Linked DNA regions of Homo sapiens. The protein of the gene in region 2 interacts with the protein of the main gene of each other region in a pairwise test. Each region holds a gene or a part of one and is shown on either strand. Other genes may lie near its edges.

Region 1 (7,043 bases), on a different chromosome or scaffold from region 2:
CCTGACACAGCAAGGCCTATGGGGCTGGGCAGCCCTCCTGGATGCCCAGGCTGGTGCAGGCTTTCCAAAGACGACCTTCATCCAGAGTGATTAAAGAGCATGTGGCCTCCTGAGAGCAAAGGGGCCCAGAATGTAGTTTCCTGACATTGCTTGGAGATGCTCACGTGCATGATTATTCATTTGGGAACAAATGGAGAATGATCTCCATGCTGGGAATACTGACTTCGTCCGGGGCATCCCAGAGGGATCCTCTGTTTTAGGGCCAGTTTAGTATGGGCTGAGGAATCAAATAAAAGATATAGTATCTTTTTCTCCACACTCTTTGGCTCCTGGGGCAAATAAACCTTAGGGCAGACACACAGAACTGGATTATTGCTGTTGAAAACAGGCAAGGATTGAGGTTTTTTATGATTTGAGAGGCAGGCTGTTGAAACAGCCCTTGGTTTCTCTTCCCACTTGAGGAAGCTGGAGCTTGGTTCAATCAGAGGGAGTCAGGAGACTGAATTGAAAAATCAGGAAACCAACTCTGGTTCTGGGTCATTTCATTGACTTTCACGGTAAGAGCAACAAGTTATCTACCTGAGAATGGTCATCATCTAGTATATGATTATTAAAAATAATAATGACCGGCCAGGCATGGTGGCTCATGCCTGCAATCCCAGCACTTTGGGAGGCCAAAGCAGGTGGATCACGAGGTCAGGAGTTCAAGATCAGCCTGGTCAATATAGTGAAACCCCCATCTCTACTAAAAATACAAAAATTAGCCGGGCATGGTGGCACATGCCTGCAGTACCAGCTACTCGGGAGGCTGAGGCAGGAGAATCACTTGAACCTGGGAGGTGGAGGTTGCAGTGAGCCAAGATCGTGCTACTGCACTCCAGCTTGGGTGACAGAGCAAGACTCTATCTCAGAAAAAATAATAATGATAATAATGATCACAACACAATAACAATAGTGGTGTCTTCTTTTGCTGGAGGCTTCTTCACTTTTGAGAGCACTGTCATTCATAGTACATCCTGTGTCCCTGGCTGGTAGGTATGGCATTTTACAGATGGGTAAAATAAGACTCAGCATGGGTAGCTGCTTTTCTAAATAGCACACAGTTGAGTATTATGTAACTGTAGGAATTTATATAATGCTTTGAGACACTGGGCTAATATATTGAGACTTATGGGATTACAGCTGTAAAGCTTGTTGTCTGAGTCGACAGGGGCATTCAGAGATGGGTAGAGACTCTGAGTCTCACAGCTTCTACTGTCTTCAAGATAAACTCAGTGCCAGGAGCTTCCCTGTGGCTTCCATAGCTGTGACTTTTAAAGTGTTTGGTCCCAGGCATGCTGACACCAGCCCCTCAGAAAACCTATGCCCTTGGAATGCATGATGAGAGCCAGGAGCAGACGGATCTCCAACAACAGGGGCGCTTGCTGCCTCTTCATCTCCCTCATCTTCTCCCTTCCCCTGGTCTTAAGGAATCCCTTTTCTCCACCAGGAGCATTATTCCCTTGCTTCAACTCCAAGCATCCCCTTCCTACTTCTTTTCCTTTAGGGGTAAGAAGAATCTCTCCCACAACCCCTGATGCCCCTCTCCACCACAGTAGTAAAAATAAGACAGGACTTGGCACACGATTCTATTGTTTTCATAATCTATAAAGGGTACCAATCAGCTGCAGGTCATTGATGGGATAAAACAGCAAACAAATGGATACATGAATGAATGAGAGGATACATAACTAGAAATAAAATATTTAGAATGCAGACAAGTAAAATTCCTGGAAAAACAAGATTGTGGACAATGGCTTACAGCTGAGCTGAGCATGGCATATACTGCTCTGTTGGGTGGAGGGCACATGTGTGCAGGGATGGAAACCTGCTAGAAGGTTCTTGCACCAGCCTGGAGAGGAGGTCCAGGGGCAGGATAAATAAAAAGGAAGGAACAAATGCAAGTGGCTGTGAAGAAGCAAGATTTGGAAACAGACTTACATGGAGACTGATGAGAAGAAGGAGTCAGAGATGGTATGGTTAGTAGAAGTTGGAAATTTAGGAGATAAAGTTTGCAGGTACTGATAGGAATGTGAATTTCAGCACAAAGTGGTTGTGGGATATCCAGGTGGAAATGTTTGCCAGCAAATGAAAATTGACTATTAGCATCTGGGTAGGAAGTCAGGACAGGTGGAATACAGTTAGCGTTTACACAGTCCTTACCGGTTATCATTAATGTCCTTTAATAGGGGCCCTTTGAGGTGGCCTTGTTAAGGAGCCACCCCAGACCAGTGACTTCCATCTCTCTATGCTTTTGCTTTCACTGTTCCACTTCTAGGATGCCGACCTCTGGTTCCCATAAGTGATTAGGTTTTACTCGCCCTTTCCAACTTCCCTTTGATCACAAACCTTCCATGATCCCCCTGGTTGGAATGAATTGCAGTCTTTCAGTAATCCCACAATACTTATATTGAGATTTAGGATTTATGACTCTAGAAAGCAGGGTAATAATACATGGCAATTCAATAGGCTGTGGCTTGCATGAAATAGTTTCTCCATTTGTTGAAAGAATGAGATTGGCACCATTCAACAGCTTCTCTTATTAAAAAAAAAAAAGTGTTTTCCAAAGCTAAGGGATGACTCAGGGTCATGGGGCTGTGGTGAGCGCTTGCATCAGCATCTCTGTATTTTGCTTAGAAGCTTTAGGGGTGGTCCTTATATAACAGACACTCTCAGAGTTGGGAGGGAACGCCTGGTCTGACTGCCCACACAAATGAATGAGCATTATGCCTGCCTGGTGGTTATTCAGCCCCTGCCCGAGCATGTCCGGTGACAGGGAGCTGTGTCCTGCCGGCCTCGATGGCTTGTTAAGGAAGGGCTGAGTGGATGGTTGGGGGAGGATAAACAGTGAAGAGCACAACTTTGCTTTTCCCATTGATTACTCAGTCTGGGGCTTGCTGATGGTATCATATGAGATAGGTTAAATCATGCTATGGCAAAACAACAACAACAACAACAACACTCAACTCTTGGCAGCTTAAAACAACACAAGTTTCTTTACTGCTCACACTCTAGTCCATCATGAGTTGCCTGGGGGCCTCTTTCCTTACTTGTGGCTTCAGGATGATGGAGTACCCACCATCCTAAATGCTTTTTGCTTTGTCAGAGGAAAAGGAAAAGAGACTCTGGAGAATTTTGTATCAGCCGTTAAGTGGTCTGGCCTTCTCTCCACATCACTTCTGCCCACAGCCCATCAGCAGCCCCAACCCCTGAGAGCTGGAAAATGAGACCTTACCACCTTCCAGAAGGCTGAGTGCTGGGTGTGAGTGGAGGCAGCCATAATGGCTATGGTGCAGGCCTCATGCAAATGGCCTGGCTGATTTCCATTTGGTCTAGAAGGAAGAGGTTCCTTACCTCTTCCACATCATTGTGACAAGAAGCAGCTGGTGAAGTAGGCAAGGATCAGTGTGTGTATCAAAAGGTCACTGTCACTCCTAAAAGTCTCTGGATTAATTGGAGGAGCCTCTTCTACTTGTAAGGATCCTGTTCAGTGTTCTAGGCATAAGAGGTCATCTAGAGAAGCCACCTGAAATGGCAGAATAAATTCTTCAGCTTTTTTCCCAACCTCCAAAAGGCTGGAGACCTCCGTGACTAGCTGGCCTGCATTAAGCAGTTTTCCTCTACGTGGAGACAGTGATGAATCCTCCCTGCTTGGAAGGTTGCAGCCTCCACAATAAATCAAGCCCCAAAGAGAGAAGAAGCAGTGGTGATTAAGAGTGGGACCTGAAATCCAAACTGTAATCAGTCAGAGATTTGTCATTGGAATTGGAGATGGAGATGGAGAAATAATGGATGATTCAGGCCCACGGTGGCTGTCTCTAAACATGTTAATTGCCTCAGCTTAAGTGGCTGAAACTGATGATTAGAAAATGTAGAGATGTGCATAGCAGAACTCACAGCCACTGCCTCCCGGGGCTGGCGCACCCAGCTCTGAGAAAGTGGGCTTTCTCTTTGAATGGGAGGGGGTAGGGTGATGCCTTGGCTGGGGGTAGATAGGATTGGTTATCACAGCTCTGAGGTCCTATAAGGAGATACAATAGGGACATGGCGTGCCCCCTCCTGCCAGGTGGTTGAGATTCACAGGGGCTGGTGGTACCTGCTTCACCCACCAAGGGTCACCACCTCTGGAATGATGGCTCCTTTGCTCTGATTCCTCAGGTGATTGCCTGAGAAGTCTAAGGTGAGGGTTAATGCAATTCATCTACACTGGACTTTGAGAATAAAGAAGGTGCCCCATAGTTACAAAATGTCTTACACGTGTGCTGTGCATGTCTTTATTTTTAATGTGTGCGTATGTGTTTCTCCCTCTGTGTCTGCCATCTGGGGTAGTTAGCTCATCTAACTAAATTGAGAGACCAAAGTCATGGTCCATACCCAAATGGGATGGTTTGAGGGAGTTTGTTCTCCACCCAAAGAAATCTTAGTTTGTAACCACAGGCTGCATATCTAATGCCAGCCAGCCATGTTGTAAACATATGCACTTGGTCATTTCAATGCACTTTACCACGTATTTGTTAAGTCTCTCCTAACTGCCATGCATTGTACAAAGGCGCTTTGCAAATGGAAATGAGAAAAGAATAGACGTTGGCTAAGATGGCTTGCAGAATGCTGGACAGAGGAATCTATCTGTATTGGAAGGTGGGAAGAGGATGATGACTCCACAATGGATAGATTATGGAAAGTACCCCTGGGAGGGGGTCAGAAAACATGCTGTGGGGCCCAGAGGTACAGGGGAGGGTGGAGGAACAAGGGACGGTAGGCAGAGCTCCCAATAGAAAGTGTCATTTGAGGCTGGGGACGGTGGCTCGTACCTGTAATCGCAGCACTTTGGGAGGCCGAGGTGGGCAGATCACCTCAGGTCAGGAGTTCAAGACCAATCTAGCCAACATGGTGAAACCCCCTTTCTACTGAAAAATATGAAAATTAGCTGGGCGTGGTAGCAGGCGCCTGTAATGCCAGCTACTTGGGAGGCTGAGGCAGGAGAATTGCTTGAACCCAGGAGGCAGAGGTTAGAGTGAGCCAAGATCACGCCACTGTACTCCAGCCTGGGCAACAGAGTAAGACTATGTCTCCAAAAAAAAAAAAAAAAAAAAAAAGGTAAGTGGCATTTGAGATGGGCCTTGAAGGATGTTTCAAAAGATTTTGATGGGAAGAACAAAGTATTCATGAGAGCCTAAACAATACAAAGTATATTTATATATTATATAAATAAATATATTTAGTAATATGTATCTATATCTCCCTATATAACTGGGTAAAATGGTGCATTTATATCTGTAGCCTTCCCTACTGCTGGTCTAGGTGCCAAATTTCTTCCTTACAGTTACCCTTTAGCTTACAACTTTGATTTCTGATAAAATGAAGTTACCCTTGGGAGCAGCTTTTCAATGATTTTAAGCTCCTTTTACCCATTTATACCTGTGTGGCTGGATTGGAGGTGGGAGAGCTTAGTCTTCCTGCTGGTCACACTTCCCACCATCAGGCCTTTCTTGGTCAGGATCAGTTTCTTCCCTCTTCCCCCAGAGGCTACACTGTCCCTCTTCATCATTGCTAATTGTTGTTTTTCTCGCGTTCCTCTTGCTCCATCCACCATCAGGCAAAATGCCACTGCCTTCTGAGGCTGGCCATTTTTTCCTGACCCTCCTATATTTGTGATAAATGTACATATTCACTTTAGGTTTGTGAGTTACTATAGGAGGATACACAGGGGCCAGAAAAACAAGAGCAGGGCAGTTATGGATTCATTAGAAACCCTTGCAGTATTTCTCCTAGTGGTCCTGCCTTGGGTCAGATGACACATGGGCTGGACCAGCTCTTCCAGTCTTCCCAGTGGCCATCCATGGGTGACCCCTAGGAGCAAGCGTGGTATTCTGTTAATAGTAAGCAGTGCACTGAGGGCTTGTGTCATTTGGGTTTGGGTATAATAAAAAGAGGAGTGCCATAAAAAGAAGAACTTACCAGAAATGGATCTGTGTTGGGGCAGTGGCTCTACGTTGCTGCAGGGAGGGCCTTTGTGTCAACCGTCTGTGAGAGGCAGTGTCCAGGCAGAAGTCAGCTGCCATAGAAGCAGGAGTGGCGTTTTCCTCCTCTAACTCAGGGCCGTGTCTCTGCTCCCTCTTCAGCTGGTGCTGCCAGAATACTCCATCCATAGCCTCTTCTGCATTATGTTCCTGTGTGCGCAAGAGTGGCTCACGCTGGGGCTGAATGTCCCTCTACTTTTCTATCACTTCTGGAGGTAAGTCAGACTGGGACTGGTATATCCTTCGTCTTTTCTGCCAGGGCAGCCTGCTCTCCAGTGATGATGTCACCCAAATAGACAGCTTCTATTGCCTTCCAATCATCCCTTCCTTTCTGGGTCTCTCTCTTTAAAGCCTGTTCCCAAACTGCTCTTAGGCAACAAGTCCAATAAGGAAAGGCCCTTTTTGTTGGTTTCATTAACCACAACCCCATCCCTTGTAGGTCAGTGTTAAAAGCATCTATAGTTGCATTCACAACAGCCAAAGAGTGGAACCAACCCAAATGCCCATCAGCTGATAAATGGAGAAACAAAATATGGTATATCCATACAATGGAATACTATTTGTCAATAAAAAGAAATGAAGTACTGATACATGCTACAACATGAAGCCCTAAAGAAAGTATCAGTGAAAAAAGCCAGACACAAAAGGCCACATATTTCATGATTCTATTTATAGGAAATGTCCAGGAAAGGCAAATCTATAGACAGAAAGTAAATTCATGGCTGCCAGGGGCTGGGAGGGAATGAGAATAGGGAATGACTGCTAATGGGTCAAAGGTTTTCTTTTTAGGGTGATGAAAATGTTCTGAAATTAGATAGTCATGATGGTTGCACAACTCTATGAATATACTAAAAACCACTGAATTGTACAGTTGTACACTTTAAAAGGGTGACTTTTATGGTATGTAAATTATATCTTAATAAAAAAAAAAGCACCTACCAGATGGGCTGGATTTTCTGGGACAGTTATAATTTCATAGATTCT
Region 2 (4,029 bases):
AAAATTAAACTCAATACCAAAAGGCAGCAGATGGTGTCACTGAGTCTTTCCCCAAACAACAGCTGTTGCCTTTGCAAGGTATAGGGCTGGGCCTGTGCCTTCTCTGTGCTTCTCCAGGCTCTTGCACAAGTTGGTCCACCCAGCCAGCATGCCCTTTCCTCTCCAATTCTCAAACTCCTATGCATCCTTCAAAACCCACTGCAGATTCCCCTCTTACATGCAGCCTTATTCAAACTCATTCAATTGTCTCCATGTGGGGACTGTGCTCCCATTCTTCCCTTTGGCCCAGGCTTGATCTCCCAGGACTGAGGGTACTTGTCTCTAGTTCTATCTCCCCCAGGTTGGAGGATTGGGCTGGGACCAGCTGATAGGAAACCCAGTTGAGGCATGAGCCTGAAAAAACTCTTGAAATACAGACATCTGTGAGTCATTAACTCTGCCTGAGAAGAAACCAGGGACAGCTTCTCAAAGGAGGTGGCATTGCACCAGGGTCTTGAAAGATTTTCTCAGAATATTAGAGCTAAAGGAATATATACATTTTTTTATTTTGGGGTTGGTGTGGGCTGCTCTGGAGGCCAAGCCTGGAGATCAGGGACCTGGGAAGGGGCCCTGAGAGGGGCAGAAGGGAGGAATGTGCCTGGGCGCAGTGGCCACGCCTGTAATCCCAGCACTTCAGGAGGCCGAGGCGGGCAGATCGCTTGAGGTCAGGAGTTCGAGACCAGCCTGGCCAACATGGCGAAACCCCATCTCTATTATAAATACAAAAATTAGCTCGGCATGGTGGCGGGTGCTGTAATCCCAGCTACTCAGGAGGCTGAGGCAGGAGAATCACTTGAACCCAGGAGGCGGAGGTTGCAGTGAGCTGAGACCGCAGCATTGCACTCCAGCCTGGGTGACAGAGTGACACTCAGTTTCAAAAACAAACAAACAAACAACAACAACAAAAAAAAACAGGGATGGGAGGTGGGGAGCAATTTGGGAGTCTCAGATGGAGACTTGGTCTTAGAACTCAGAAATCCCCACCTTGAGGAACCCACGCACCCTGAGCCAGCAGCCTCATCAGCCTCGAAGCATTTATTGAGCACTGCCTGTACATCCACAGGAGGGTGATGACAGGATTGGCACAGTGACCGTCCTGTCCCCTTGTTGGGGGTCTCTCCTCTTCCCCCTCTAGGAGCTGAGGGAGCTGAGGAGCGGCATGAGGGACAGGGAGGGGGCGGCAGAGCTTCCTGGGGCCTCAAGGACAATCCTTTCCTGTACCCATTCTTCAGATGGGGAAACTGAGGCCATGGAGGCGTTAGGACGCCCTGAGTCACCCAGCAGGGACTGAAGGGGTTCTGGGTGGAGGTTAGGACATCTTAGGCTCAGTGCCCGGGGATCACGTACTCCTCTTCATCCATTGGGGCCTGGCCCAGTGACTGCAGGTTACAGTAGACAGGCTGGGAAGCCAGGTCGATGTCCTTGTAGTTGATGTAAAAGTCATTGTCCTCTGAAGGGTGAGCCCTGGGGGGACAGACAGACCAGGGGTAAGTGTGGGAGGGGGAGGACTCAGGGGACAGGCACATGAGCTTTGAGAAAGTCCAGAGTGGGCCAGGTGCTCTGACTCACGCCTGTAATCCAGCACTTTGGGAGGCTGAGGTGGGTGGATCACCTGAGATCATGAGTTCAAGACCAGCCTGGACAACATGATGAAACCTCGTCTCTACTAAAAATACAAAAATTATCCAGGCATGGTGGCACAGGCCTGTAGTCCCAGCTACTCGGGAGTCTGAGGCAGGAGAATCACTTGAACCCAGGAGGTAGAGGTTGTAGTGAGCCGAGATCGTGCCATTGCACTTCAGCCTGGGAGACAGAGCAAGACTCTATCTCAGAAGGAAAAAAAAAAAGAAAGCTTCAGAGTGGCTCAGTCCACCCCGAATATTTACATATGGGGAAACTGGCACGGGCTAGCGTTCTGACTCCTAGCCAACCCCACCTCTCTCTGAGGAGGCTGCGGGAGGGCAGTGATTTAGGGAAGGTTCTGTGGGTGTAACGCTGCGGTCTGAGGACCCTGAACCCTTTTTCCTTCCTTAAAAATGAGATAGCGGCCAGGCGCGGTGACTCATGCCTGTAATCCCAGCACTTTGGGAGGCCAAGGCAGAAGGTCTGCTTGAGGCCAGGAGTTTGAGACCATCCTGAGCAACAGGGTGAGACCCCATCTCTACAAAAAATTAAAAAATTATTCAGGCGTGGTGACGTGTGCCTGGAGTCCCATCTCCTCGGGAGGCTGAGGTGGGAGGACCGCTTGAGCCCAGGAGGTCGAGCCTACAGTGAGCCGTTATCACACCACTGCACTGCAGCCTGGATGACAGAGGGAGACCCCGTCTCAAAAAAAACAGAAATTGAGGTAGCTGTTCATTATTACATTAAAATCTAAATTTTTGTTTCCTCTTGAAAAATCGGAAGCTCTGGCCACGTCAGTCACATGCACACAAGTGGCTGCACCCACACTCTGTGCTCCTTCCGATGGGAAATGTTTTCACCACTGAAGCAACTGACTTTGTGGCCCTCATATATAAAAGCAAGTCTCTGAGCCTCAGTTTCTGCATCTATAGAATTGGTCAAGGAGCAGGTAGCTACTTAGGAATATTTGTTATGGTCAGCAAGACCTCCAGAGAATTTTCCTGCCTCCTGAACATTCTAATTCCAACCCAGCTCCTCTTGTAAAAAGGGCCACTGGGCCAGGTGCGGTGGCTCACGCCTATAATCCCAGCACTTTGAGAGGCCAAGGTGGGCAGATCACCTGAGGTCAGGAGTTCAAGACCAGCCTGGCCAACATGGCAAAACCCCGTCTCTACTAAAATTAGCCGGGTGTGATGGTGGGCGCCTGTAATCCCAGCTACTCGGGAGGCTGAGGCAGGAGGCAGGAGAATCACTTGAACCCGGGAGGTGAAGGTTGCAGTGAGCCGAGATCATGCCATTGCACTCTAGCCTGGGCGACAGAGCGGGAAAAAAAAAAAGGCAAAAGGGCTACTTTGTGTTAACAGCATCTATCAGTCAATTATACTCTAGTACGAATTGCCCACCAACCCCTAAGTGGTTGTAGGGGGACGAACAGGTCTGGGACGCAGGGTTTGTGTCCTGCCTTTTTTGACTGGCTATGTGACCTTGGACAAGTCATTTCCCTGCCTCCCAGAGCCTCCATGTCTGTAACTGTAAGATGCAGGGTGGAAATGACACAGTCAATTCTAAACACAGTGTTTCTGGAGGCCAGTACATAAAGGAGGCTGATCCGGAAGCCTCGGGGACAGGGAGGCCAAGATGAACATCAGAGCACAAGCTGCTTTTGCGAGTCCAGTGTCTTCAACACCCTGCCTCAGACCATTTCTGCTTTTGAGCCATGTTGACATCTGCTTTGCATATTTTCTCCTTTCTCACCAACAGCCTTCCGATAGCCTCCCCACCTCCTGGCACGGACTCTGCTGCCCAAACACAGCCATGGCCGCGGCCCCTTCCTGCTTGGCCCTCCCTGTTCCCCTCAGGCCTCAGCTTTCAAGTCATCCCTTCTCAAAAACCATTCACAGCAAATTCTCTGTTCTTTCCCACCTCTGGGTCTCTGCCCCTGAGGGTCCCACCCCTTGAAATTCCCTCCATTCCCTTTTCCAACCTAGAAAAGCTTTTCTTTTCTTTTTTTCTTTCTTTCTTTCTTTTTTTTTTTTTTTGAGACGGAGTCTCGCTCTGTCGCCCAGGCTGGGGTGCAGTGGTGCGATCTGGGCTCACTGCAACCTCCACCTCCTGGGTTCAAGTGATTCTTCTTGCCTCAGCCTCCCAAGTAGCTGGGATTACAGGCACCCACGACCATGCCCGGCTAATTTTTGTATTTTTAGTAGAGACAGGGTTTCACCATATTGGCCAGGCTGGTCTCGAACTCCTGACCTCGTGATCCTCCTGCCTTGGCCTCCCAAAGTGTTGGGATTACAGGCATGAGCCACCGTGCCCGGCCTAATTTTTGTATTTTTTAGTAGAAACAGGGTTCCACCATGTTGGTCA

What was found.
Region 1: the proteins of LRRC25 (region 2) and CNIH3 interact in binary tests that used the Homo sapiens proteins (3 or more experiments, as listed by UniProt).

Annotation. Positions count from the first base shown.
Region 1 is NC_000001.11:224,724,301-224,731,343, forward strand, and holds part of CNIH3 (protein cornichon homolog 3), read left to right. Parts: intron 1-1,623; exon of another isoform or gene 1,624-3,565; intron 3,566-5,997; exon of another isoform or gene 5,998-6,161; coding exon 6,162-6,274; exon of another isoform or gene 6,275-6,292; intron 6,293-7,043. UniProt on the Homo sapiens protein: Regulates the trafficking and gating properties of AMPA-selective glutamate receptors (AMPARs).
Region 2 is NC_000019.10:18,390,623-18,394,651, forward strand, and holds the end of LRRC25 (leucine-rich repeat-containing protein 25 precursor), read right to left. Parts: intron 1,504-4,029; coding exon 1,365-1,503; 3' UTR 515-1,364; downstream 1-514. UniProt on the Homo sapiens protein: Plays a role in the inhibition of RLR-mediated type I interferon signaling pathway by targeting RIGI for autophagic degradation.